Homo sapiens: one gene and its partners. The protein of the gene in region 4 purifies or fractionates together with the protein of the main gene of each other region. This does not show direct contact. Each region holds a gene or a part of one and is shown on either strand. Other genes may lie near its edges.

Evidence for each region.
Region 1: the proteins of DLK2 (region 4) and ZDHHC18 purify together in Homo sapiens (affinity purification with mass spectrometry; 2 studies listed by BioGRID and IntAct, with this or other methods). This does not show direct contact.
Region 2: the proteins of DLK2 (region 4) and RABGAP1L purify together in Homo sapiens (affinity purification with mass spectrometry; 2 studies listed by BioGRID and IntAct, with this or other methods). This does not show direct contact.
Region 3: the proteins of DLK2 (region 4) and GALNT2 purify together in Homo sapiens (affinity purification with mass spectrometry; one large-scale study listed by BioGRID and IntAct). This does not show direct contact.
Region 5: the proteins of DLK2 (region 4) and LRRC8A purify together in Homo sapiens (affinity purification with mass spectrometry; 2 studies listed by BioGRID and IntAct, with this or other methods). This does not show direct contact.
Region 6: the proteins of DLK2 (region 4) and EIF2AK3 purify together in Homo sapiens (affinity purification with mass spectrometry; 2 studies listed by BioGRID and IntAct, with this or other methods). This does not show direct contact.
Region 7: the proteins of DLK2 (region 4) and TARBP1 purify together in Homo sapiens (affinity purification with mass spectrometry; 2 studies listed by BioGRID and IntAct, with this or other methods). This does not show direct contact.

What each region holds. Positions count from the first base shown.
Region 1 is NC_000001.11:26,843,433-26,847,723, reverse strand, and holds part of ZDHHC18 (palmitoyltransferase ZDHHC18), read right to left. Parts: intron 1-4,291. UniProt on the Homo sapiens protein: Palmitoyltransferase that catalyzes the addition of palmitate onto various protein substrates, such as CGAS, HRAS and LCK. Acts as a negative regulator of the cGAS-STING pathway be mediating palmitoylation and inactivation of CGAS.
Region 2 is NC_000001.11:174,991,480-174,995,770, reverse strand, and holds the end of RABGAP1L (rab GTPase-activating protein 1-like), read right to left. Parts: 3' UTR 463-4,291; downstream 1-462. UniProt on the Homo sapiens protein: GTP-hydrolysis activating protein (GAP) for small GTPase RAB22A, converting active RAB22A-GTP to the inactive form RAB22A-GDP. Plays a role in endocytosis and intracellular protein transport.
Region 3 is NC_000001.11:230,069,676-230,073,966, reverse strand, and holds part of GALNT2 (polypeptide N-acetylgalactosaminyltransferase 2 precursor), read right to left. Parts: intron 1-4,291. UniProt on the Homo sapiens protein: Catalyzes the initial reaction in O-linked oligosaccharide biosynthesis, the transfer of an N-acetyl-D-galactosamine residue to a serine or threonine residue on the protein receptor.
Region 4 is NC_000006.12:43,449,569-43,453,056, reverse strand, and holds the end of DLK2 (protein delta homolog 2 isoform a precursor), read left to right. Parts: coding exon 1-52; intron 53-972; coding exon 973-1,117; exon of another isoform or gene 1,118-1,161; intron 1,162-1,782; coding exon 1,783-2,518; 3' UTR 2,519-2,705; downstream 2,706-3,488. Other genes in the region: ABCC10 (ATP-binding cassette sub-family C member 10), read right to left, coding at 2,966-3,128. UniProt on the Homo sapiens protein: Regulates adipogenesis.
Region 5 is NC_000009.12:128,906,133-128,910,423, reverse strand, and holds part of LRRC8A (volume-regulated anion channel subunit LRRC8A), read right to left. Parts: intron 3,268-4,291; 5' UTR 3,260-3,267; coding exon 1,103-3,259; exon of another isoform or gene 484-1,102; intron 381-483; exon of another isoform or gene 1-380. UniProt on the Homo sapiens protein: Essential component of the volume-regulated anion channel (VRAC, also named VSOAC channel), an anion channel required to maintain a constant cell volume in response to extracellular or intracellular osmotic changes.
Region 6 is NC_000002.12:88,620,965-88,624,464, forward strand, and holds part of EIF2AK3 (eukaryotic translation initiation factor 2-alpha kinase 3 isoform 1 precursor), read right to left. Parts: intron 1-3,500. UniProt on the Homo sapiens protein: Metabolic-stress sensing protein kinase that phosphorylates the alpha subunit of eukaryotic translation initiation factor 2 (EIF2S1/eIF-2-alpha) in response to various stress, such as unfolded protein response (UPR).
Region 7 is NC_000001.11:234,454,708-234,458,998, forward strand, and holds part of TARBP1 (tRNA (guanosine(18)-2'-O)-methyltransferase TARBP1), read right to left. Parts: intron 3,050-4,291; coding exon 2,960-3,049; intron 1-2,959.

The DNA of each region.
Region 1 (4,291 bases), on a different chromosome or scaffold from region 4:
GGCAACAAAGCCAGAACCTGTCTTAAAAAAAAAAGAGAGAGAGAGAAAGAGAGGCAGAGAGGAGATGATTCTAAATTAAAAGCGATTTAAGAGACATAAACAAATGCAATACATCATGGATCTTATTTTGAAAAACAAAACAAAACACAGCAACAAAAGACATTTGGAGGGCAACTGTGGAAATCTGACTACAGATTAAAAACTACGAAACAGGCCGAATGCAGTGGCTCATGCCTGTAGTCCCAGCACCTTGGGAGGCCAAGATGGGAGGACTGCTTGAGCCCAGGAGTTCAAGATGAGCCTGGGCAAATAGGAAGACCCTATCTCTATAAAAAATGACAAAAATTAGCCGGGTATGACGGCGTGTGACTATAGTCCCAGCTACTAAGGAGGCTGAGGTGGGAGGATCATTTGAGCCCAGGAGTTCCAGGCTGCAGTGAGCATGAGCCAGGATCACTCCATTGCACTCTAGCCAGGGTGACAGAGCAAGACCCTGTCTCTAAAAACAAACAAAAATTAGGGAACAATTGGCCAGGTGTGGTGGCTCACATCTGTAACCCCAGCACTTTGGGGGGCCGAGGCGGGCGGATCATGAGGTCAGGAGATCGAGACCATCCTGACCAACACGGTGAAACCCCGTCTCTACTAAAAATACAAAAAATTAACCGGTTGTGGTGGCGTGTGCCTGTAGTCCCAGCTACTCGGGAGGCTGAGGCAGGAGAATCGCTTGAACCCGGGAGGCGGAGCTTGCAGTGAGCCGAGATCATGCCACTGCACTCCAGCCTGGGCGACGGTGGGAGACTCTGTCTCGAAAAAAAAAAAAATTAGGAACAATGAATTTTCTTAGGTATGATAATGGAATTGTGATTATGTAGGAGATTATCCTTAGATTTTTAAGACATATGTTGAAATATTTATAGGTAAAGTATCTATGATGTCTATAATTTACTATGAAATAGTTTGAGAAGAACAAACATATATATGCAAATAAGATGCACTATCAACTACTATTCAATCTAGATGGTGAATGTACAGGAATTAGTTGTACTATAATCCTTCCTGCTTTTTCTGTGTGTTTGAAATTTTCATAATAAGAAATTTAAGGCTGGGCATGGTGGCTCACGCCTGTAATCCCAGCACTTTGGGAGGCCGAGGCAGGCGGATCATGAGGTCAGGAGACCATCCTGATTAACACAGTGAAACCCCGTCTCTACTAAAAATACAAAAAAATCAGCCGGGCATGGTGGCGGGCGCCTGTAGTCCCAGCTACTCGGGAGGCTGAGGCAGGAGAATGGCGTCAACCCGGGAGGCAGAGCTTGCAGTGAGCCGAGATTGGGCCACTGCACTCCAGCCTGGGAGACAGAGCGAGACTCTGCCTCAAAAAAAAAAAAAAAAAAAAAAAAAAAAAAAAAATATATATATATATATATATACACACACACACACACACATATATCTCTATAGAGATATATATCTATATATCTCTCTCTCTATATACACATATATATGTATATACGTGTATATATGTATGTATATAGATATATGTGTATATATAGACATATATACATGTATATATATACACACATATATATACACACACATATATATATACACACACACAAAAGAAATTTAAGAGAAAAAAAGGCAGAGATATAGCATATTCATGGATTGGAAGACTGAATATTATGAAAGGATTTATTCTCCCTAATCCACAGATTCAACATAATCCTAGTCAAAAATCCCAGTAGGTTGTTTTTGTGAAAATTGACAAACTCATTCCAAAACTCATATGGAGGTGGCTGGGCATGGTTGCTCATGCCTGTGGTCCCAGCTTCTCAGGAGGCTGAGGCAGGAGGATTGCCTGAGCTCAGGAGTTTGGGGCTGCAGTGAGCCATGATTGTGCCACTGTACTCCAGCCTTTCCAACAGAACAAGACCCTGTCTCAAACAAACAAAAGACACAAAGGGGCTAATCATAAAAGAGCAATTTGATAAACTGCATTATATCAAAATTAAATTTTTTTTTCATTTAAAGGTAATCATTAAGAGAATGAAGAGTTTTTTGGGGCTGGATGATTAAAAAAAAGAATGAGGCCGGGCGCGGTGGCTCAAGCCTGTAATCCCAGCAATTTGGGAGGCTAAGGCAGGCAGATCACCTGAGGTTGGGAGTTCGATACCAGCCTGGCCAACATGGTGAAATCCCATCTTTACTAAAAATACAAAAATTAGCTGGGTGTGGTGGTGGGCGCCTGTAATCCCAGCTACTCAAGAGGCTGAGGCATGAAAATCACTTGAACCAGGGAGGTGGGGGTTACAGTGAGCTGAAATCATGCCACTGCACTCCAGCCTGGGTGACAGAGAGAGACTGTCTCAAAAAAAAAAAAAAAAAAAAAAAAAAAAAAAAGAATGAAGAAGTAACCTTTAGAGCAGGAATGGATAATTACAAGATGTTTACATCTTGTAAACAAAGACAAAGGACTTGTATGAAGAATATGTAAAGGGCTGGGCGCCTTGGCTTAAGCCTGTAATTCCAGCACTTTGGGAGGCCGAGGCAGGTGGATGACCTCAGGTCAAGAGTTCGAGACCAGCCTGGCCAAACTGGTGAAACCTCGTCTATACTAAAAATACAAAAATTAGCCGGGCATGGTGGCGCATGCCTGTAAGTAATCCCAGCTACTTGGGAGGGTGAGGCAGGAGAATCACTTGAACTCAGGAGGCGGAGATTGCAGTGAGCCGAGATTGCGCCACTGCATTCTAGCCTGGGTGACAGAGCAAGACTCCATCTCAAAAAAAAAAAACCAAAAAAAAAAACCATGTAAAGAAATCCTGTAAGTCAGTAAGAAAGTCAGACAACTGAATACAAATACGGACAAAAGACTTAAGTAGGCATCTCATAAAAGAGGCTGTCCAAACAGCCAATAAACACGTGAAAAAGTGCTTATATTCATTAGTCAGCGAGGAAATGCAAATTAAGACCACAATATGCTACTATGACACATGCACTAGAATGGCTAAAATGAAAAAAAATAAAACATACCAAGTGTTGGTAAAAAAGTAGAGCAACTAGAAATCTCATATGACCGCTTTGGACAACTGTTTGGCAACAGCTACCCAAGCTGAACATATGCACGCCCAGAAAACCTGCTCCCAGGCATCTACCCAACAGCAATGTGCATGAGATAATGTGCTCTGAAAGACATGCACAAGGATGTTCACAGCAATAATTCTCATAATAGACAAACTCCAGAACTACCCAAACACCCCAGTAGTAGAATGGATGTTTTTAAAAAGTAGTATATTCACACAGTGGAATTCTATATAGCAATGAGAATCGAACCATCGTCAACTACACACAATAATATTAATGAATCTCATAAACATTGTCTGGCCGGGTGCAGTGGCTTACACCTATAATCCCAGAACTTTGGGAGGCCAAGGCGGGCAGATCACTTGAGGTCAGGAGTTCAAGACCAGCCCGGCCAACATGGTGAAACCCCATCTCTACAAAAATACAAAAATTAGCTGGGCATGGTGGTGTGCACCTGTAATCCCAGCTACTCGGGAGGCTGAGGCAGGAGAATTGCTTGAACCCAGGAGATGGAGGTTGCAGTGAGCTGAAATCACGCCATTGCACTCCAGTCTGGGTGACAGAGCGAGACTCCATCACAAAAAAACAAAACAAAACAAATTGTGTAAAGTGAGGAAGCCAGACATACAGTACAAAATGTTCAAAAATAGGCAAAAGTAATCCATGGTGTTAGAAATTAGGATTGTGTAACCCTTGGAGAGTGACAGTGATTGGAAGGGGGCATGAGGGGGCTCCTGGGATGCCAGTCATATACTGTTTCTTGATCTCAGTGCTGATTACATGTGTACATTCAGTTTGTGAACATTCATCAGACAGAACACTTAAAATTTCTATACCTTTTTTTTTTGAGACGGAATATTGCTCTGTTGCCCAGGCTGGAGTGCAGTGGCATGATGTCGGCTCACTGCAACCTCCGCCTCCCAGGTTCAAGCAATTCTCCTGCCTCAGCCTCCTGAGGAGTTGGGATTACAGGTGTGTGCCACTACGCCCAGATAATTTTTGTATTTTTTTGTAGAGATGGGGTTTCACCATGTTGGCCAGGCTGGTCTCGAACTCCTGATCTGAAGTCATCCACCCACCTCAGCCTCCCAAAGTGCTGGTATTACAGGCATGAACCACCGTACACGGCCACAACTTGTATACTTTTGATAAGCCCATTATACTTCCATAAAAAATAAGAAATAGAGAAAAAAGGAGGCCGGGC
Region 2 (4,291 bases), on a different chromosome or scaffold from region 4:
TGGTAGCTGTGTACTTAGAAGCAGAGAAAGCCTGTTTTCAGAGAGAAGAATGAAGCAGGTAAGTCATCTGGAAGGACAAGCAGAAGCACAATTTTGGGAACAGTTGCTTTCAGAGTCCTGATGGCATTCCAGCCCCTTGTCCTAGTGCCAGTTCAGGCCCAAGTGTTTGGCCTTTGGGACCTATGATACAGATATCCTATTTCCTTTTAATTAATTGCCTCTTAAAATTACTATTATTAAGCTAGCTTGCAAGGGTTTCTGTTACGTGGAATCAAGGAACCTCAGTAGAGAGGAAAATGAAGCACTTTGTGGTGGTGCTGCACAGGGTATCATTTTGCAGGGTATATACTGTGTGTTTTCTACGTTGACTGGAGTCTGGGGTCAGGTGTAAGAAGTGTTACATAAACATTGGGTTCAAATGAGTCAGAATAAAGTCAACTAAAAAAATAAAAAAGACATACATGGACTTCAGAACAAATGTTTATTACTGCTTAATGGGGCCAAAGGGGCAACACAAAGCATTGAAAACATCACTGGCTCACAAAAACAGTCACCTTGTTACCTTCTCAGTTGCATTTGTTTATTTCACAAGGCTTCATTCACACATAAAAACAAGATACTAATCCAATTCAAGTTCATAACGATTATAAAAGTAAACATTTGTTGGGACAATGTACAATAAATTGCACTTTTTAGACAAGCATTACATTTACATTTATAGAGTGTACTATACATAATACATGGAATTACGGAAACGTCTAATTGGTCATTGTTTATAGAGGAAGAGGCTGATCACTAACGTTTATTTTGTAGTTAATTAGTACTGTTCAGACTAATCAACTCCTTTATTCTAGAACCTGTTTTCATTAGAGATGCCATGGACAAAATAATGGAATTCATAAAAATAGACAATTCCAGAATCTCTACTACCTCCTCTGCAAGGGAAAGGTAGGAGTTAGAAAGAAAGGAAGTGGGGCTGACTGAGAAACTTTGTCCCTCATTTGAACTAAGGATCCATGCATTATGCAAAATACCAAAAATAGAGAAACTGATACAAAAGGCTTTTGGGACATCTTGGATCTGGGACCATCTCCAGCCTTATTCTTGTGCTTTCATGACACCAGAGTCTTTCGATGCATTTATATTCTCACAATTCAGTCCATATATTTTATCCCATATATAATATATAGTTATTAAAAGTTATACAGTTTAATGGAAAAGATTTTACATGTTAACTAATTGCCAATGAAAAAGGAAAATAACTTAAAATGTTCACTTTCTACTCAATGATTCTTTTTTCTTAAGCTTTTCAGAATACCACTAATGACAAACCAGAGATGGAGGTAGGAAGAATGGGATATATTAATGAAATGTTTTTATAGCAGGCAGCAAATTCAGGTGGAGATAAGCTTGACATATGTAGTCTTTTAGATGCAAACTGAGAAAGGAATGCCAGACAGCTGACTGCAGTCACTAAAATCTCCTATATGCCCACTTTTCTCATTACAACTCAAGATCAGCATCTCCTATTGAGGTGCAGCCAAGGTTGAAGTCCTCATTTTGGTCACTTTTGAAAGATAAAGAATTTGCTAAGGTAAAGGGCTTTGCCTGTATTAAATGGAAGCCATTATGAGAGAGGAAGAATGTGTTGGGACAGTTCTAGTTCAGTGTGACTATCAGCATGGCGACGAGAAAGAGTTTTATATCTGGTTGTAGGAAACAGGCTGCAGAGCTGTGGTCTGGCCTTCTGGCTTTCATCATCATTTCTTGAAATCTCAATGTGTATTTGGTTGTGTGGTACCCAGGTAAACAAAAGCAGCAGAGATACTCTATATAAAATTCTTCCAATTAAACACACATACAAACCTAATAGTGTTCAAATCATACAACAGAATTTCTTCACACTCATTTGTAATTGGAGAAAAGGAGTCAGTATTTTGGAGTGTTTTTAAGGGCAAGTTATATAATATAATCATCTTGCTAATCAAGTAAAAGTGTTCTTTCCCAGAAGATAAAACAAAACCAAGGCATTTAATTTTTTAAAAGTTTTTTCCCTTAAAGGGGCCCCCCTAATCAGGCAGGTACCTAAGTGTTTGATGCAAAGGTTGGTGGGAGAGTTAGTAGACAGATTTTAGTGAAAGTATGAAGACTTAAACCCCTACATCAGTTACACATGTGATTCTCCTGGGTGACTGGCTCACTCCTTTAAAGATGTAACTCTATCTCCTCTGCCCAAATCTGTATTGTTTTCCGTTGGTTTTCTCACTTCAGCTAGGAAATAAAGCAACTAGTTATTAACTGGAAAATATTTTAAGAAAATGGAGCAGGGGTTGGAGAAAAATAAATATTAATACATCATAGGAAAAAAATGAAACAAGATACATACTATTAAATATCCCCACATCCATACAAAGGTTGCTTTTCTACTTTACTCAGGACATTTCAGAAAGCCAATGAAGAAGTACTAATTTAACAGCTGGGAGAGGGGCAGAAGACACTGGTTGAATGGCATTCCTATTAGTGTTCCTGATAGGCACTCATAAATAAACAGAACATTAAGTAACAGAATTTCTTTGCATTAAATTATATGTAACTAAATAAAACCAAATTTTGACATGGTTCAGGATGTGGGAAGCTAGCAAACATATGCACTGCAAAATCCAGCTTGGTTTCTTTCAGATTTAAAGACGTGTTTAGATTCTCAAGATACAAAAGCTGATGAACTGAATTATGAAGTTGAATTTCATTCATTTAATTTTTTCCACAGAATTTAATGAAAATAGAAATGATCAATTCTTAGATACTGCAAATATTAGATTTTCAGAGGAATGTTTTGTACAGAGTGCATCCTAGCAAAGGATGAAAAACACTAGAATGTTTTGAAACTTTCCTGGATATTTGGCTGGTTAATCTCTTCTAAGTGAAATTCAAGAGAAGAGATGCAATTCTCAAATATATCTCAAAATAACTAAAATTAAAACTAGGAGTTACTTCATGCTGGGATGCATGAGTTTTCCAACAATAGACAGTGAAGGACATATTGTTTGGAATATTGCTATTATAACATATTGTATGAACAATCATATCACATACCAAATTCTGAATTTTCTTTGTTTCTAGTCTTTACTATTGCTACTGACTCAAAGGCATTGCAGTGAAGGAGAGTTTAGGCTTATGGTACCAACAGGCATACCCAAGTATGATATGGGGCTGGAGAATAAAAAAAAAAAAAATATGTATTGCCCTCGTAATCTTTTGAAAGAGCTAAAAGAAAACTCAAAAGATGGACTTATCAAACTTGAGAGGTATGTACCTGGTGATTTTTCGAGACGGAATTTTGCTCTTGTCGCCCAGGCTGGATGGAATGTAATGCCGTAATCTTGGCCCACTGCAACCTCTGCCTCCTGGGTTCAAGTGATTCTCCTGCCTCAACCTCCCGAGTAGCTGGGATTACAGGCACCCGCCACCAAGCCCGGCTAATTTTTGTATTTTGCAGTAGAGATAGGGTTTCACCATGTTGGCCAGGCTGGTCTCAAACTCCTGACCTTAGGTGATCCACCCACCTCAGCCTCCCAAAGTGCTGGGATTACAGATGTGAGCCACCATGCCTGGCCAGGGGGGATTTTTCTCTTCTCCTCTTTAAAAGGAAAGGGACTATGAAGTTGAACAAGGTCTTTAGATAAGGGATTGACCTAGAGCCATTATGTTTCTCCCTCACCTACTATTATTTAAAGAAAATTACACACTTTAGGCATTCTGTGGAATGTACTTATTTTTGTAAATTGAAACAAGCTCTGTACAGAACTATGAAATTCACAACACAAAAGAGCATCTTTAATTTAGCTGGCCATTTGATAAGGCAACTGCACAAGGCTTCTTGGAATCAAAGCGTAAAGTACCAGTAAAGCTAACAGCCTATACTAAATGATTTACAAAAACAAGCGCCAAGATAACATTTTCTAGCTATTACATTTTACAAAAAAAAAAAAAAAAAAATTAGCTTATCTAGACCACCATGTAGAGAATGTTAAAGCCAACACAGACACTTGGAATGCTGGGTTATGTTCCTTTTTGTTAAGAAAATAAATTTTGTAATGAAAGATGTCAGAACAACAATGAAAGATTTATGTAAGAAAAGTATTATCTGATGAGTATAACATAACAATCACATCAGTTTTATGGGCTGTAGAGAATATAAACACAGATAAAGGGGATTTCACTTTTTAGAACATAAAAGATCATTTTAGAGGAAAAGATCCACTGTGAGCAACTTGGTGCATCCTCCTGGGAT
Region 3 (4,291 bases), on a different chromosome or scaffold from region 4:
ACCCTCCTGGCCATTCCTCTTCCCTAAGAGTTAGGGACAGAAAACTGCCAGCCATGGGCAGGAGGAGGTGGTCAGCAGAGTGGCCTAGGAGAGACTCTCTGTTCCATGGGGAGCTCCTGGAAGGCTGCGGCAGAAGGGACAGTTGACCAGGGCAAGCAGCCAGCAAGGGCAGGCTGAGCCATGAGGGATCGGCCCATTTCCCAGCCCCCAGGCAGCCAGCCCTTAACTGCTTCTTTGTGACAGCCCGCCTCAGTGAGACAAGGGGCTCATATAACTCCCATAGCCTGGGAAAGCTTTTTAAATGTAAGCCTATGAGTGAGACTCTATGTGACAGTTTTTGTTTATCTCCAAATCCGGCCCTGATGAATCACTGTCATCTACATTTCAGCATGCTAAGAAACCTAATCCATATAAAACACCCCATGCTTCTGGGGCCCATACTAGTAGACATGACTAAGTGCAAAAATGCCAGTGTTTCACCCTGTGCTGCAGGAGGCAAGAGCCAGGCAGGAGCACAGTGCCACCTGCTTAGAGCAGGGAACCCTAGAAAGGTGGGGGCCCATCAGGGAAGATGGATTAGTGTCTTGAGCCCCTTTTATTTCCATGGTTTACAATAGAGAAAGGTGGGAGAGGCTTTCTGGACTGGGCAGGTAATCTGAAGACAGCTTTCCTGCCAACTCCATACTGGGTTCATCATGAAGATCAAGCACAGGGCCAAGGTAAAGGAATCTTCACACTGTTAAGAGAACAAGGTCAAGTTCCACTCTAAGGACAGGAGTGATCACTGGTGAGCACACATCAATGAATTCAATGTAATTCTCCATAGAGGAGAGTTCCCCGCCAGGCCCAGCCTATCCCAGACCCATTCAGGGGGGTTTGCATATGGAAGTACCAAGACATCCCTCCTCCTTAAAAACACCTCACCCATAAGGCAGTCTAGAGGCAAGGCCACAAGATTACAATGGTGGAACCAGAACTCTCAACAGTAACAGTGAATCAAGACTTACTCAGAGGGAAAAGGGATTGTTCCCATCATGGAAGTGGGGCTAGGCCTCCTTCTATCCAAGTGGCACATTTGCAGGGGTGACAATCAGCATGTTCACTATGGCACAGGCACAGAAGTGGGTCCAAGAGGCCCCTCAAGTGTCAGGATTCAACCCTTTGATTGCTGAACATGGGAAAGAGATCCCAAGGAAAGACCAGGGCAGCTAGGAACCGGAGGGCACTCAGGGGGTCTCAAGGCAGAGCATATTTAACAACCAGCATGGAAGTGCCCCACTGTTACATGTGAGTGGCATGGCTAAGCCAGTGTGTTTCCATCTGGATATCCACTGACTTGTACGGCTCAGCATCACCCATGCAGAGCTTCCAGAAGAGGCTTCACAAGGACAAAAGCACAAAAACCAACAGGGAGCATAGACTTGGCCAGGTTTGTGTGTTTTCTCATCACGTGAATTCTGCTGGGCACTCCAGGAGACTTCACAGGCTTTTCCCAGGAATACCTAGCTTCCCTTCCTGGGATCTCAGCCAGAGCCTCACAGTCGACTCCTGCTTACACCTGTGTCTCTGTCCCAGGCAGCCTCACCGCACCCCCCGCCACCCCCGCCCCACCACACCTGCTTTCACTAAGCCCACTGCCTCTGGACTTGCTAGAAGTTAGGCAGGACAGTGGCCTTGCCTGCTTTGACACTAAAATCAGTATCTTCCCAAACTGACTTCCCTCTCCCCAAAGCCCTAAGAAACATGAGCAGTAGCAAGAAGAAATTATGTCTTCCCCAACCCAATCTCCCCCACCCCCTCTCCCATCATTTTTCTGACCACCTCTTCCTCTGTTCCAAACAGGAGACCAACCACTCACCCATCATTCATCCAAACAGGAGCTAGGGTGGGGAAACTGACAGCGGGTCTGAAGACTCATAAAACCTTCACCAGCCTCCCAGGTGTCCCCCACCCCAAGGTCCAACAGAGCCTGGGCAAGCTGACCCCACTCAGTGCTGGGTAAAGCAGTTGCTTTTTCATTTTTGCTCAAGGGTCTAGGGAAGAGCTCGTTACTTTTGCACTGTTCAGCAGTCACACAATCTGTTTCCATTATGTTTGCTGACCCAGAGGCAGCCACAGCTTCACTCCAGAATTGGGAAACTTTATTTTCTTTAAAGAGAGAAGTTTATGTTACAGTGCCACTGTCGGATTATCTGGCTATACAGTGGTTTTCCCTGCTACTGTCCTCCCTGTGTCAACTTCAAACTCTCATTTGAAGTGGACTTTCTTTAAACTCCAAACTGATGATAGGTGGCAAGGAGTGGTATGGGTGTTCCCCTCCGCATCCACCAAGATGCTCACAGATTTTTGGCACCCATTAAACCACGTGAGGGCCCCATGCTCCACCTCAAGTCATGCATGCTTCCAGGGATCACAGCGACCTGCCCTTCTAACAAGAGGGGCAGGGCTACAGAGGGAGAGCAGTGGAGCTCAGAACCTGGGATCCCACCACAGGAACCCCTCGTTCAGGGACACGTCTGTCCACTGTTGGACACTACAACTGCCTAACCGCCAAGGCAAGCTGCACCCTCCACCCACATTCCCGATGGCTGCCCACTACTGGGATCCCCATTCTGACACCACAATTGGGTACAAGAGAGCTGGCATGGTGTCTGGACAACTTCCCAAAAAGTCCGTCTCTAACAGCATTTAAGATTCATAGCCCAAACCCCAAATGAACCAGTCAGATCAATCTCAGAGGTGGGGGTAACGGATAAAAAAAAGAAAGACGACTATTTTCCAGAAATCAAGAATTGTATCAGGAATACCGTGAACTTAAGATTCCTGGTTCACTACACTTTCAAGGGGATATTTAGGCTTTTATTTTTTCATTTTCCTCTTTTAGAGATAGCAGTTATTCAGCACCCACTAACAGTATTTAACTCTCCGAACAAGGCCATGAGGTAAGAATGATTACTCCCACTGCAAAGATGAGGAAACTGAGGGTCAGAGAGGTTCAATGCATCAGTGAAGGTCACTAAGCACAAAGAGGTAAACAGCTAGGTCTCACTCAATGCCAATAAGTGGATTTGTGCCATTTCCCTTTAATGTCTACTACTAGCTCAAAAACATTACTAGTTCCCAAATGGTTCAGCTTGGCATTTGAAGCCCGTTACAATTTAGTTCTGAATTTCTCCAACTTTACACCCTAACGTTCCCCTCCATGTGTACCATGGTCTAGCCCGGCAAGGTCCTTCACTGTTCCAAGAAATAACCTGCCCGCCTCCCCGCATGATTCCTAGAAGATCCCACCCAAAGTCCCCCACCCTTGGACTCTCGGGCAAGGGCCACAGGACTCGTGCCAGCTCAGGGAATAAGGGTGATGCTACTGTGCAAAGTGGACAGGCTCCCAGGGCTCCGGATCATGTCCCTCAACTAACACCGTCCCTTACCTCCCAGCATGCAGGCACACAGGCAAGGGGTCTCAGGCTCCACACACTCTTACAGCAGAGAGAAAACCCTTCCCTTTCCACCCTAAACAGCCACACTTCACCCACAGGCAGCTTCATTTCCAGAGAAATCCCTTCCTCTCTTCTGCGGCTCCATCCACTGCCAACGTACCAAAGCCCAGGGGAGACTTAACATGGTTAAAATTTTAAAGCATTTAAGAAGCTCAAAGGAAAGGCACGCTTGAAGTGCAAATCATCAATTTAGGGGGAAAGAGCAAAATATGGGGGGAAAGGGTATGGACACAAATGTAAATGAAACATAATTTTAAACAATATTTTGAATAAACTGCTTTAACATACATGTCCTGAGCCTGGGTGTTGAGTCCCGAGTTGTGCGGCAGTGCCTGAGATTGGTCTTCAGCACTCCCTCCTGCTTAGTTTACTAAACCTGCAATCTGAGGTGAGCTGGCTCTCTGGGTTTTGCCAAGTGGAGAATAACAGTTCTGTGATGAGTTACTTAACAGGCAGGGCACACAATGACAAGCCTGGGCTGGGCTGCTGAAGCAGCAGAAATCCTAGTTGGACTCCCCTCAGACGATCCCTAAAGCCCAATACTGCAGCCTAGTACCCTATGAAAAACGTCAGGATGTGCAGAAACTGGCTAAATATGGAATAAAAGCCCTGACTTGAACAGTATGAGGCAAGAGAAAAAATATAGGTCCACTTATCTCTAAAAAAACTATAGCTAGCTTTTAAATTCTGCCTTTCTGTGCATGGCCCGCTATCTTTTTTTATGTCCATACTTTACAAGCCAAACAAACCACATTTTTTTTTTGGTATGAGAATGAAATAAATTTAGAGAC
Region 4 (3,488 bases):
CCATGGCAGTGCATCTGCCACAGTGGCTGGGCAGGCAAGTTCTGTGACAAAGGTAGGGGGGAGGAAGGGTAGCTTTTGGTTGGGAACCCCATGTTCTTAGGGGAACAGCCATCAGTATTTATTGAGTGCCTATTTTGTCCTTGTCAAACCCTCAAATACATGGTATTTTATCATTTTTTTAAATCTTAGACTTTTTATATGTTGTCTGAATTGATCCTCAACATAACCCCATGGGGCAGGAAACACAGCTGCTAAAAATTGTACTCATTTTACAGATGAGGAAACTAAGGCCCACAGAAGAGCTATAACCTGCTCAAAGTCAGGTTTTTTTGTTTGTTTTGTTTTGAGATGGAGTCTCACTCTGTCACCCAGGCTGGAGTGCAGTGGTGCGATCTCGGCTCACTGTAACCTCCGCCTCCTGGGTTCAAGTGATTCTCGTGCCTCAGCCTCCCCAGTAGCTGGAATTACAGGCACCCGCCACTTCAGCTAATTTTTGTATTTTTAGTAGAGATAGGGTTTCACCATGTTGGCCAGGCTGGTCTCGAACTCCTGACCTCAAGTGATCCACCCGCCTTGGCCTCCCAAAGTGCTGGAATTATAGGCATGAGCCACTGTACCGGCCTAATGTTTGTATTTTTAGTAGAGATGGGGTTTTGCCATGTTGGCCAGGCTGGTCTTGAACTCCTGACCTCAAGTCATCTGCCCACCTTGGTCTTCCAAAGTGCTGGGATTACAGGCATGAGCCACAGTACCCAGCCCAAGGTCAGTTTGAGACAGACTGAGAGCCAGGGCCAGGAGCCTCCTGACTCCAAATTCAGTGTTGTTGTCTCTCCCTAGCATACCACGCCAGCCTGGGCTGGGTTTGTAGTATAGCCACACCTACAGAACCTGGGGCCTGGAAGGCGTGGACAAGTCTGGTCTGGGGACCAGATGGGAGGGGTTATCCCAGAGCCTTTCCTGTCCCCTCTCCAGATGAACATATCTGTACCACGCAGTCCCCCTGCCAGAATGGAGGCCAGTGCATGTATGACGGGGGCGGTGAGTACCATTGTGTGTGCTTACCAGGCTTCCATGGGCGTGACTGCGAGCGCAAGGCTGGACCCTGTGAACAGGCAGGGTGAGTGCTGGGCCCTCAGGGTGAGTGGAAGGTTAGACCAGAACCTGGTGATGGGATGAGAAAAGAGGCAGGACTGTTGGGAGGGTGGGGGACTGAGAGTCAGACCCACACGGGGACACTCAGATAAAACCCCTGCATGCCAAAGTGTTCCTAGTTCAGGGTTTCTCAACTTTTTTTTTTGTACCTTCTGAGCCATTTCTTCAACAATCTATAGGAGCTAGAGGGGTAACAAACGTGTGACTGTTCTGGTTGGGGAGGGTGGGTGTGGGGAGACTGAAGGGCCTGGGTCTCTCCTCATCCTCTCCTGAACGCTGGCTTGCACCCTTCTGTGTCACAGTAGGGATGAGGAAACAGCCTGCAGGGCTGGACTTGTCCTCATTTCTGCATCAGGCCCAGGAGCCTGTGAGGATAATAATAGCACACTTACCCTGAGCCCTGCCTTCTGGCTGGGCCCTGTGCTAATGGCTTGACATTGATTATTTCACTCAACCCTCACAATTAGGGAAGCTGGGTACTATTTTTATTCTCATTTTTAAAATGAGGTATTTGAGGCTCGGAGTGTGTAGCCCAAGATGACATGGCGGGCAGTGGTCAGGATACTGACCTGGGCTGCCCTACAGGTGTTGGTAAGTTGGTTATCATGTCCTCTCTCACCCCTACCACAGCTCCCCATGCCGCAATGGCGGGCAGTGCCAGGACGACCAGGGCTTTGCTCTCAACTTCACGTGCCGCTGCTTGGTGGGCTTTGTGGGTGCCCGCTGTGAGGTAAATGTGGATGACTGCCTGATGCGGCCTTGTGCTAACGGTGCCACCTGCCTTGACGGCATAAACCGCTTCTCCTGCCTCTGTCCTGAGGGCTTTGCTGGACGCTTCTGCACCATCAACCTGGATGACTGTGCCAGCCGCCCATGCCAGAGAGGGGCCCGCTGTCGGGACCGTGTCCACGACTTCGACTGCCTCTGCCCCAGTGGCTATGGTGGCAAGACCTGTGAGCTTGTCTTACCTGTCCCAGACCCCCCAACCACAGTGGACACCCCTCTAGGGCCCACCTCAGCTGTAGTGGTACCTGCCACGGGGCCAGCCCCCCACAGCGCAGGGGCTGGTCTGCTGCGGATCTCAGTGAAGGAGGTGGTGCGGAGGCAAGAGGCTGGGCTAGGTGAGCCTAGCTTGGTGGCCCTGGTGGTGTTTGGGGCCCTCACTGCTGCCCTGGTTCTGGCTACTGTGTTGCTGACCCTGAGGGCCTGGCGCCGGGGTGTCTGCCCCCCTGGACCCTGTTGCTACCCTGCCCCACACTATGCTCCAGCGTGCCAGGACCAGGAGTGTCAGGTTAGCATGCTGCCAGCAGGGCTCCCCCTGCCACGTGACTTGCCCCCTGAGCCTGGAAAGACCACAGCACTGTGATGGAGGTGGGGGCTTTCTGGCCCCCTTCCTCACCTCTTCCACCCCTCAGACTGGAGTGGTCCGTTCTCACCACCCTTCAGCTTGGGTACACACACAGAGGAGACCTCAGCCTCACACCAGAAATATTATTTTTTTAATACACAGAATGTAAGATGGAATTTTATCAAATAAAACTATGAAAATGCAAGTGGGCTCCTATGCCAGAAAAACCCACCTGGCGTTCCAGATGCAAGAGGGCCAGAGCAGAGGCCTGGTTCTGGGGAAGCCTCAGGATGCTGCCCACCAAGGAGTGATTTCCAAAGAGTAATCCAGGGTGCCCTTTTCCCTTCTGGGGAAGTGTGGAGAGGTAGAGCCCCAGAGGAGAATGTAAACAAGCAGCCAGCACCTCTGTATAGGCCCGGCCTGGATCAGAGAGAGGGGAGAACTCTGCAGGGTGTGGGATTGGGCTCAGGGACCTCCGAGTGAGGCAGGGACTCCCTGCTGGCTGCTCTGCAGCAGCTGCTGGAACAGGGAGTGGGGCTGGTTGCGCAGGGTGGCCGGGGAGTCCAGCTCTACCACTCTCCCCGCTTGTAGCACCAGCACCCGGTCTGAGTTCAGGATCGTGTTGAGCCTGTGAGGGGGAAGATGGTCAGTGTAGGGGATGAGGGACAATGCCCTAAGTAAGAACACTGACCTGCTTTCCCTCCTCTCCCCTCGGGACACCACAGGTCTGTCCCCACAGGCTTTAGCCCCTGGCTTGGTGCTGGGGAAGGGACTGCAGAGTCCCTCAGATAATGTGCTATAAAGGGCCCTAGGCAGTGCTATAAAGGGCCCTCAGATAATGTGCTATAAAGGGCCCTAGGCAGTGCTATAAAGGACCCTTCTCGTCCCTGGAGAAGGAGGAGCTGAGATCTGGGGGGGCAGGATCTCTAAGGCCCTGACCACTGGGGTCCCTGAAAGCAACGGAGGCTCTCGGTGCATGCTACCACAG
Region 5 (4,291 bases), on a different chromosome or scaffold from region 4:
ACTGGGCCTGGTCAACTCCGAGTCTCTTCTTCAGCCTCCTGAACCTGGTGGCATCCCTAGTGAAGTTCACAGGGGCCCGGCACGACAGCTGCTGCTGTGTCGGGGGCAGAAGGGTGGCTGGCTGGGCTCTCCCTTGTCTCCCAGCGCCTGGCCTCAGGCTTCCTCCACCACATGTCTCACTACAGGAATCTCCACCTGGATGTGAGGCCCAGGAAAACCTGCAGGTCCCCAGGACGGGTGGAAGAGGGACGTTCCCCACAATGGCAGTGGCTTTGTTTCCATTTCGGAGGCCAGACCACAGAGCCACAGGAGTACCCAGCCCTCCATCCACACTGCCTGCCTCCACCAAGGGGCCCTTGGATGGGGGCTTCCCCAGCCAGGTAAGAGACTGGCACCCACAGACCACCAACAGTCTTGAAAGTATGTCGAAGGTGTGGCCTCCCAAACTCCCAGTGACAATGATTTGCACAATTTCCTTTTCAGAAGGGCAGGCAGAAACAAACTAGCCCCATCTAGGCCCAACTCTGCCTCTGACACCACCAAATGCAGTGGAGAAAGGTGTGTGGGAGCTGCAGAGACCATCCAAGGCTTCCCCTCAGCCAGCACTGGCCACCCACACAGTTTCTGTCCTGGGTGGACCCGGATTGGCTCCTTGCCTCCAAGTCCGACTGGGAACAAGCTGAGGAAGACACAAACTCCAGGCTAAGTCTTGACTCCCACCACCCGGCTTTGCGAGAGAACCCCCGGGTTTGGACCTCCTGCCCAAGCACATCCCTGCTGAAGAGGAACCCGGCTCAAGGTCACCTTGGGGGACAGACCTTGCCTGGCCATGCAGTCTCTCCAGGCAGGAGAACTGCAACATTTTGGAGCAAAGACAGGCCCGGGGCCCAGAGATTCGGATTCAGCAGGCCTGGGATGGGGCCCAAGGAGTCTGTCTCTTGAACAGAGCTTCTATCCTGGATGGTTCTGTAAACCCCAGGTGAGGACTCCACACTCAGGGGCATCGACGGTCCCAGGACACTGAGCCTGCCGAGTGCCCCACCACAAGCCCTGGCCAGGCCACCCGCCAGCCCACACGCAGAGCTGTGGCCGGGCCACTCACCCGGTTGGCCGTGATGGCTAGGTTCTGGAGGTTCTGCAGGAGGCCGATGTCGGCAGGGAGGAAGGTCAGGTTGTTGTGGCTGAGGTCCAGGTAGCGCAGCTTGCGGCAGTAGAAGAGCTGGGTGGGGATCTTCTCGATCTTGTTGCGGTTCAGGTAGAGGCGCTCCAGGTTGGTGAGGTTGCCGATCTGGATGGGGATGTAGGCGATGTGGTTGTACCACAGCTTAAGGCAGGTGAGGCGGTGCAGGTGCTGGAAGCTGATGATCTCCTCGATGGTCTTGAGGTTGTTGTCCTTGAGGTCAATCTCCTGCAGGTTGTGGAGGCTGAAGATGGAGTGGGGGATGCGCTCCAGGTCACAGCGGATCAGCTCCAGCTCAGTCAGGTTCGCCATCTTCTTGAGGCTGTTGAGGACGATGAGCTTGGTGCCCTCATTGTTGATGGACAGCTTCTGCAGGTGCACGCCCACATCTGTGACCACCTGTGGCAGCTTGCTTAGGTTGCTCTTGAGCCGCAGCACCTTGAGGCGTTTGAGCTCCCGCAGCCCGTCGATGACGATGTAGCGGTTGTTCTCCGCGCTCAGGTTGCCCGTCAGGTGCAGCTCCTCCAGTGTCTTCAGGCTATAGATCCACAGCGGGATCTCCTTGATGTCGGTGAACTTGATGTGCAGCGCCCGCAGGTTCTCACGCAGGAAGGCCAGCGCGGGCGCTTCAATCTTGGCCGCTGTGTGGTAGAGCCACAGCTCCTTGAGGCCCGTGAGCTGGGCAATGCTGGGCGGGATGGTCACGTCGGGGATCAGCTCCAGCTTGAGGACCTCCAGCTCCACCAGGTCAAACACAGTGTCAGGGATGCCACTGAGCATGAACAGGTGCAGCTCCAGCTTGTCCTGCGCGTTCTTGGTGAGCCGCTGCCGGAGCTTGTCCAGCGTCCACTCGTTGTTGAGGTTCAGCTGCCGCAGCTTGTTCTCACTCACCTCCGACAGGAAGACGGCGAAGCGCTTGGAGTAGAGCGGGTCGTATTGGTCAATGAGGTGCAGCATGAAGGCGAAGTCGTTCTTGACGTCGGGGATGTCGCTGTAGCTGCTCTCCTCACGGATCGACTCAAACGAGTACTTCTTGAGGGAGCGCCGTAGCATCCACCACAGTGTATACATGCAGATGAGGCCGTAGAAGATGACTAGGCTGATGTAGAAGGACGCCAGGATCTTGAAGAGTGTGGCCAGGGGGTGGGCACAGCGGTAGGTGCGGTAGCCCGTCAGGCTCTCAATGTCCACGGTGCAGTCCACGTCGAACTTGATGTTGTGCACGTAGTAGACGGTGTAGCAGATGATGAGGATGAACTTGATCACCTTGATGATGGTCTGCCGCATGTAGAGGCGGTACACAATGTCCCCCTCCTCCACATGGGTCCGGAACTTCTTCACCTTCTCAAACAGCGCCTTGGCTTGCTCCCCCTCCTTCTTGTCCAGCACGCCCGTCTCTGAGCGGTCCACGATACCCTGCTCGATCCGTGACTTGGTCCGCTGCAGCATGGGCACGGTGGCCTCCACGTCCTCACTGACGGTCGATGACTTTTTGTCCATGGACCCATTCATCTTGCTGAAGGCCGGCTTGGGGTCGCTCTCCTCCACCACTGTCTCCGACAGGGCCCTCGTGGTCCAGGGCGAGTCGAAGCACTTCAGCAGGATAGACACAAAGTGCTCCAGCTTCGAGCTGGTGCGCGGGAATTTGAACCAGAAGTTGCTGCAGGCCAGGAAGATGAGCGTGTGCAGAAGCACCAGGTAGGGGAAGTACTTGGCAAACCAGTGCAGTCGGTTCTCATAGCACACAGCGTCCACGTAGTTGTACTGGTGCCGGTCCAGGTCATACTTGATGCCTGTGGGGCCCGTGTCAGGGGTCGGCAGAATGGTGGAGTTGGGGTAGGTGGGCTCCGGGCCAGGGGCTGCCCAGCCCCGGAACGAATCATTGCAGGAGTCCTTGGTGACCCACTTACAAGGCAGGCAGATCATCTTGTCTTGGGTGACCTGCAGCGTCCCCCCGAAGACGGCAATCATCAGCATGACGATAGAGATGTAGTCTGTGAACACATCCCACCACGGCTTCAGGATCCGGTATGCTGGCTGCGTGTCCGCAAAGTAGCGGAGCTCTGTCACCGGAATCATGGTTCAACCTAAAAGGGAGCCATAGGAGGGGGGTTAGCACAGGGTGGCCTGGCTTTCCTAGGACCAGGGGTCAGGGGAAGAAGACAATGAAAATTCTTCCATTGTCCAAAATTCCACCTCAAATCTAGCTGGGAGCCAAAGCCTGCCTACTCCACGGGGCAGCCCACTTATCAGCCCTTCTGCAGAAAGCATGTGGCCACTTGGCTGGGAAACCACCCTGGGGGAGGCAGGCAGGCTCCCCATTTAATACACAGGAAGACTGAGCACAGTGAGATTAGACAGATCCCCAGTGCAGCCTCAGGGTTCTCTGCTCCATCCCTTGCATTCCAGTAAGAGCAATCGGGAACTCCTTTCTAAAGTCCACCTATTTAATGAACAGATTGACCAGAGGGACACATTTAAAACTCCCAGTTCACTGGGAACCAGCTGCTGTAAAGCTGCAGCAAAGGGCTGGAGGGATTCCCGCAAAATATGAGGAAAGAAAGCAACATGCAGAGGGGGCACAACATGAACTCACTTCCATAAAACAAAGAGCAAGGTTTAAAAATTCCACGTGGTTCACGTCTGTAATCCCAGCACTTTGGGAGGCCGAGGTGGGTGGATCACCTGAAGTCAGAAGTTCAAGACCAGCCTGGCCAACATGGTGAAACTCGGTCTCTACTAAAAATACAAAAATTAGCCTGGCGTAGTGGCGGGTGCCTGTAATCCCAGCTATTCGGGAGGCTGAGACAGGAGAATCACTTGAACCCGGGAGGTGGAGGTTGCAGTGAGCTGAGATTGTGCCATTGCACTCCAGCCTGGGCGACAAGAGTGAAACTCCAACTCAAAAAAAAAAAAAAAAAAAAAAATTCCACATGGGGGCTGGCATGGTGGCTCACGCCTGTAATCCTAGCCTGTAATCCCAGCATTTTGGGAGGATGAAGTGGGAGGATCGCTTGAGTCCAGGAGGTTGAAGCTGCAGTGAGCTATGACCCCGTCGCTGTACTCCAGCCTGGGTGACAGAGACCCTGCTTCAACAACAAAATTCCACAT
Region 6 (3,500 bases), on a different chromosome or scaffold from region 4:
CAATCACCACCAAAAAGGCTGAGAAGATGGGAAAAGATGTGATTTACCTAAGGTTATGCACCAAATACAAAATTTTGAACAGGAGCAGAAATTCAGGTTTTTAACTCATTATTCTGTTAACTGTAAGTTTGCATAAGTGGCAACTACTATATTACTAAAACGTGCAGCTTTTTATTCCTCTCAGAAATCTCATAGATGTCGTTCATCCTGTAATTGCTCTGATTATGTCCTCAATCCAGGAGAAATGACTTTATGCCACAATGAATACGCAATAAAAAAAGAAAAACTGTGCTGACTTAAGTTACCCAGAACACCTGCCTATTTACAGTTAAGTTTATCAAATTCTGATAAGTGTATGCTAAATTTCTTCATAAAATCATTTTAAAGGAACTTTTATTTCCTGTGGAAGTTTCCGATGTGAAAGAAGACAAGCAGGTGATAGGAGAACATTGTATGGATTAAATAGTTTCTACATTAACAACTGCTTATTTTAAAATTTCAAATATCCTTTCTGGGGGTTGGGGAGAGGGCGTTATTTCACAAAACTATAAATGTGATTTGGTTGAACCTGTTTTTTTGGCGTAGCTGAGAATCCTTTGCCCAAACTTGTGCCCTCACTAAAGGAGGCATATGTTCTTGTTTAGAAACAAAGTAGTACTGATTAGACTATACTTCCTGGTCCTCACCTACTAAGTAAATCTTCAAGTCAAACCTCCTTTACTTAAACATATGACAAGACTAGCCATGCCCCAAATCATAACAAATATATCAAAAATTACCAACTATACTTTATAACTTTGGCATATCAGCTAGACCTTAAAGACATACAATCTAAGTTTTCAGTGGTACAGGTTTAACATAAGCGTAACAGATATCCTTTTCCTGTTACATTAAAACATTTTTGAAAGTACCTTTTCTACTTTATTCTATAATTTTTTTTTTTTTTTTTTGAGGCAGAGTCTCACTCTGTCACCCAGGCTGGAGTGCAGTGGCATGATCTTGGTTCACAGCAAACTCTGCATCCCGGGTTCAATTGATTATCCTGCCTCAGCCTCCTGAGTAGCTGGGACTACAGACGTGTGCCACCATGCCTGGCTAATTTTTGTATTTTTAGTAGAGACAGGGTTTCACAATGTTGGCCAGGCTGGTCTTGAACTCCTGACCTCAGGTGATCCGCCTGCCTTGGCCTCCCAAAGTGCTGTGATTACAGGCGTGAGCCACCACGCCCGGCCCTATGAAAGACTTTTAATCAAAATGGTCATTTACAAATAGAATGGAATTAAACACACAAATTTATCTCCTCCCCTCACATTTAGCTCTGCAACTTACAAGTTTTCTCCTTTGTATTTTAAAACAATTTGTAATAAAAATGTATAAGAAGTTCCCCTCTTACAAAAAAGGAGAAAAGCAAATGGAGTTATCAGGCAATGTTTAGGGAGTAAAGAGACACGCTGAAGCTACAGCTCACAGCAACTGATAAAGACAGGTCCTCTCTGCAATCTGGAAGATGCCTATGAATGCAGGGACCTGAGATCAGATAAAAAGCAATCTCCCATCCCTGTCCACATAGTCTAAGCACAGTCCTGGCATCAATTAAGCTAAAGACAATTGCAGACACAAAGGATAGTTCATTACTTGCCTGAAGTATATTTATTTTGGCTTATTACTTGCTTTGAAAGTTCTGTGTAAATTCTTCCTTAAAGGTGACTGTTAGTTAACTTTAAAAGTCTGGAGTTGGGTGAGTGAATAGGAATAGGACTATATGACTGAGCTTCCTTTCAACATGGTATTCTGATATGCTACTATTCAAGGGTCCTAGTAGTTAAAAAAACAAACAAAAAAATGATTATAAATCTGAAAGTCTGAGGAAGACTAGATTTCTGTACCTTTGTTTCACATCAGATCACTTTGTAAAACGACAGAGGAAAAAAAGAGAAATTATATCATCTTATATTTGCAAATATTTTCATGTTATCTCATTTAATAAAAAAATCAGTTTGCAGATGCACAAATTGAAGAAGCACCAGAGATTAATGTCAAATTTAGAAATACTTTTGTTAGAGAGGAATTAGAGCCAGAGGAAAAAGGAACATGTACTTTGCAAATTAGTGATAGTTAAGATAAAACTAGTTCTTTAGAACTTCTGAGATTGTCAGAATGTCTTCCCAACCCATCCCAAGAACCCCAAGTAACACTTTGCAATTTGCTATTTGTGTTGAAGTCAGAAGACTGGTAATTCACAAAATTACATAAACATATGTAAAATCTAACAGTGAGGTGATGAGACTTTCTTCCCAACTTTCTGCAATGACCATCCCACTTAAATATCAACTAATGTAATGTTTAGCAGAAGAACATGGACAACGAGATTGGTACCAGAAAAACAAGTTTATTTTAGCTAACTTTTAAAGAAAATAAATAGCTTATTCACTCATTCACATGCTTGATATGCAGAGTAAGCACTTAGAATGAAACTTGAAAATTCCATCAAGAGAAAAGTATCAATGAACTGGTGAATCTCGGATTGCTTCTTGAGTATCAAAAGACAACATGCAAAAATAAAGATAATTCCACACCTCCTCCTTTTTAAAAGTTTTGCCAGTACTGCAGTTCTTCACAGCTGTTCATAGTAAACGCTTGGTTAATTCAAATCTGTTCCCCTAATACTCCTTGAAACAAACAGAATTACCGGTCTATTATTACTGAACTAATTAATATTCTCTGGGTTTTTATCTTTTTTTAAGAGCATTTAGAAAAAACTTTTATAAACTGCGTATTTATCTCCTGTTGACTATCAACTTATTCAAGGTTTCTCAAACATTCCACACTATCTTAAGTCCACACTACAAGGCAGACCCCAAAACTGGGCTCTATCTCTTCCTAGGCAATTCTGTTTGGTGATCATGTATGCTCTTCAAGCCAAAATTCCTGTTTTCACTGCAATTTATGAGAAAGAAATGATCCTCCTGTTTGCTAAGTGGATCTTCTCTAACTACCTTCACCTCATCACCTGTTCCTTTCATTTTCCTTTTCTTTTTTTTTTTGAGACGGAGTTTCGCTCTTGTTGCCCAGGCTGGAGTGCAGTGTCACGATCTCAGCTCACTGCAACCTCCGCCTCCCAGGTTCAAGTGATTCTCCTGCCTCAGCCTCCCGAGTAGCTCGGATTACAGGCACCCGCCACCATGCCTGGCTAATTTTTTGTATTTTTAGTAGAGATGGGGTTTCATCATGTTGGCCAGGCCGGTCTCAAACTCCTGACCTCAGGTGATCCACCCGCCTTGGCCTCCCAAAGTGCTGGGATAACAGGCTGAGCCAATGCGCCCAGCCCCTTTCATTTTCATTCTATCTACACAGGCTCCCTCTTTTCAGTACATAAGTAAGTTCGGAGGTTCCTTCTCCTAAAAATTACCTCATCAGTGAGGAAAGGAGGGATTGGGGCAGAAGGGCCTGAATCTTTAACCTCTTGCAATTTGAGTATTGTCTCTGCTGCTTCATTTAAA
Region 7 (4,291 bases), on a different chromosome or scaffold from region 4:
CCTTCAGACTGGTAAAAAATCCTGCTTCACAACAGGCACTATCATACCCTGTGAAACTCCTGCAACCCTATGGTAGGCCCAAAGATACCGAGGTCCTAATCCCGGAACCTGTGAATGTTACCTTATGCAGCAAAAGGAGCTTTGCAGATTTAAGTATTCTCAGATGGGGACATTATGCTGGATTATTTGAGGGGGCCCAATGTAATCCTAAGTGTCCTCATAAAAGGAAGGCAGAGGCAGATTTGGCCACAGAAACAGAAGAGAAGAATGTGATATGAAGACGAAGCAGAGATCTCGAAATGCCAGGCTGCTGGTTTTGAAGATGGAGAAAGGACCATGAGCCGAGAAATGCAAGCAATACAGCTCCAGAAGATGAGGAAGTGGACTCGCCCCTACAAGGAAGCACAAGCCAGCCAGAATCTTAATTGCAGACGAGTGAAACGGATTCCAGACTTCTGGCCTCCAGAACTGTAAGGGAATAAATGTATGTTATTTTAAGCCACCAATCTGGTGGTAATTTATTACAGCAACCATAGGAAACTATGGAGGGAAACTGGGCAATCCCCAGAAAGATTACACAGGCACCCAACCTCTGACCAGCAATCCCAATTCTAGGACTCCATTCTGCAGATGTACCTGCAGACTATTCATTTATTGTGGCATTGTCTGTAAAAGCCACAAGACTGGACAACTCAACAGTTCGGCAATGGGGGAAATTGAATAAACAATGGTACAACCACCAGATGGAATACTATGCAAGCTTTACTTTACAAAATACTATGCAAGCTTTACTTTACAAAAAAAGACTAAGAAGGGTCTTTGCCTACTGAGATAAAGAAATCACTATGAATATACATTTTAATGAAAACTTGCAAGGTAGTAAGCAGAGTCTATATCAAAAACACCTTTGTTTGGGGATGGGGTGGAGTACGATAAGGATCAAGGCAAGATAGAAGAGCAAAACAGAAATAAGACACTTCTGACCAATAGTTTTAATCTTCAAATCACGTAAATTCATTACCCATTCAGCAAGCAAAGCTAAATTTTTTAAAAAGGAACTAAAAAAAAATTATTTGCAGTAGGTATAACAACTTGTCAATACCCTCAATATAAAAAGAGCACTTACAAATCAAGTAAAAAAGAAAAAAAAACCACTAAAATCCCAAAACAAAATGGGGAAAGGACAATAATAGACAATTCACAAAAGAAATACTACAAAGACATGAAAAAATGTTTTAAAAAACAGTGATCAGAGTAATGCAAATAAAGTCACCAAATGCTATGTTTTATCTACCAAAGTGGCAAAGAATTTAACATGCTGATACATTTGGTATTGTATCACTGTAGATAAAGTGGATGTCCACTGTCATACTTTGAAACCTCTCTCAATCTGTATCAGGAACCTTAAAATTATTGAAATACAGCAAATTCAATTTTATGAATTTATCCTAAAAAACAGGTATAAATAAAAACATATAGAAATAAGTTCCTCCCAATGTTATTTACTTTTTGAGACAGGGTCTCACTCTGTCGTGCACGCTGGAGTGCAGTGGCACGATCTCAGCTCACTGCAACCTCCGCCTCCCGGATTCAAGCAATTCTCCTGTCTCAGCCTCCCAAGTAGCTGAGACTACAGGCACACACCACCATGCCCCGATAATTTTTGTACTTTTAGTAGAGACGGGGTTTCGCCATGCTGGCCAGGCTGGTCTCGAACTCCTGGCCTCAAGTGATCTGCCCGCCTCAGCCTCCCAAAGTGCCACTGTGCCCAGCCCAGTGTTATTTATAAAAGCAAAAACTTTGAAACAAAGTCCAAGAAAAGGAACTAATACAATAAATTTTAAATGATACAATCAACTGCATTTTTACTACATCTTGAAAAATTACTTAGCAACATGCTAAAATGCTCATATATATGTGAATACAAAAAAATAAAATTTAAAACAGTTTAATCTATATTTAGAGAGATCATATGTATTATTTTAAATACACATATACTTATCTATAATGAGAAGGCAAGTAAGAGAATACGTATATTCATAGGGAAAAAGAACTAAAAACTAAACCAAAAAATATGAATTTAGTTTGACGGTAGGCATTACAGATTATTTTTATTTTCTTTATATGGTTCTATATTTTTCAAATTCCACAAAATTAGATGCATTGTGATCAAGAAAATAAAACAAAATTCTATTTTTTAAAGGCCACAATTTGCCCCTTCTTCATTTCTCAAAAACTATATAACCCAGAGGGGACAAAGATCAGAACTCAGCCACATAAATAACAAATAAGCACTGAAGTCAGTTGTATAAACTAAACCCCGTGGTTTACAAAAAGAGGGAGGAGGCTGGCCCTGAAGAGTCCTGAGGAAAAGGGTGGCACAGTAAGAGGTCTGGAGGCCAGGGACGTGACATCAACAAGACATCATCACAAGGGAAGAAGCTTCACATGAGGAGGGTCTGAGCTAGAGCCACAGAGCGGCATGGAGAAGAGGAAAGATGTTTATGAGACAGGAGGGTTTCATGATGAATTGGATGCAGAAAGTCAGGACAAACTCAGAATTACCAAAACATAAGGACTGGACAACTGGGTGGAGGAAGGGGCCATTCAATGACAGAAAAAAGAGAAAGAGGAGTTTGTGTCACTTACTGTGTTTGAGTCTAACATCGCCATTATTCCTAATGCATCTCATCCAGAGTTGAGATCTGCCCACTAGCAATATCTTTTCTTCTAAATAGGTCTATCTGTACTGCAAACATTTTCCTCTCTCCCACCTCTCCATAAGCATCTTAGCAGAATTAGTTAAGTCCACTCAAAGCAAATATACAATATTTCAAAGTCTCTGCTGACAGATAACAAAGCAATCATTATATTTTATATAAATGGCTACTAAGAAATTCATTAAGAAAACCATTTTTTATAGTTTTCAAAGACTTTATTAAATTATCTTTAATCTCACCTCTGTCCACAATGAAGTTCCTCGTCCTAAGGATTCCTCTTGTCTCAGAGACATGAGAAAAGTTGAGACATCAGAAAGTGACACTTTCTCCTGGGCAGGGCAGGAAAGGTTTTAAAAATTACTCGTATTAAAATGTTTAATTGAATAAACTAAAACCACTGTGAAGGCAATCAATTCTACTACTTAAAGTAGGTTATCATTAGCTAAATCAAAAGAAAGCAAATATCATTAGCTAAATCAAAAGAAAGCAAATAAAAAGAAAATATTATTCAACTTTTAACATAAAGATACCATGTTAACTTAAAATTGAGGTTACTATCTTAAAGACAGTCACAATCTTAAAAAAAAAAAAAACACCATTCTATAAGAAGAAATTACTTTCAATCAAAATGTGAGGACAGGCGCGGTGGCTCACGCCTGTAATCCCAGCACATTGGGAGCCCGAGGTGGGTGGATCACCTGAGGTCAGGAGTTCGAGACCAGCCTGGCTAATATGGCAAAACCCCATCTCTACTAAAAATACAAAAATTAGCCAGTTGTGGTGGCAGATGCCTGTAATCCCAGCTACTTGGGAGGCTGAGGCAGGAGAATCACTTGAACCTGGGAGGTGGAGGTTGCAGTGAGCCAAGATCGTGCCATTGCACTCTAGTCTGGGAGACAAGAGCAAAACTCTGTCTCAAAAAAAAAAAGTGATTATTTTCAATGCCATAAAAATGAGCCCCTGACTCAGAAAACCACCTAGGTCTTTCATTCCCTTAAGGTTGTACATCTTGAAATAAGATACCTTGGCTCTATCTAGGCCAGGCATTGGCAAAAACTATTCACAGCCTGTTTTGTAAATAGTTTTTTTGGAATATAGCCAACGCCTGTTTATTTAGTTCAGAAGTTGCAACACAGATCATAAAGCCAGCGGCAAAGCTTTAAAAAAGTTTGCTACCTGGCACTGCACAGAAAGAGTTTGCTGACCCCTGTAGTAAGCAATATTTACTGAGGCTTTGTAAAAAGCACAGGATACACACCATATATATTCCTTGAATGTCGATACAGGGGAAGATGAGGGGAAATGTAGAGAGGGAACAAGGCATACGCTCCAAGAGTCCTCTCCCAGTGGGCCACCCAGGACACACTTAGCTCCCCCAGCAACAAGCTGTGACAACACAGTGAAAGTCTGTCTACCAGGGAAGCTCAATGGAGACTCAGTGCCTCGGGCTTTTCCTGGGACGTGGTCATGCAGGCACCTTTTGCCTCATACATACTGAAATTCCAGACTCTCAGAAAGAAAGCAGGTTTTCAGCATAAACCACATTGAACAAACACTTTAGATACAATAAG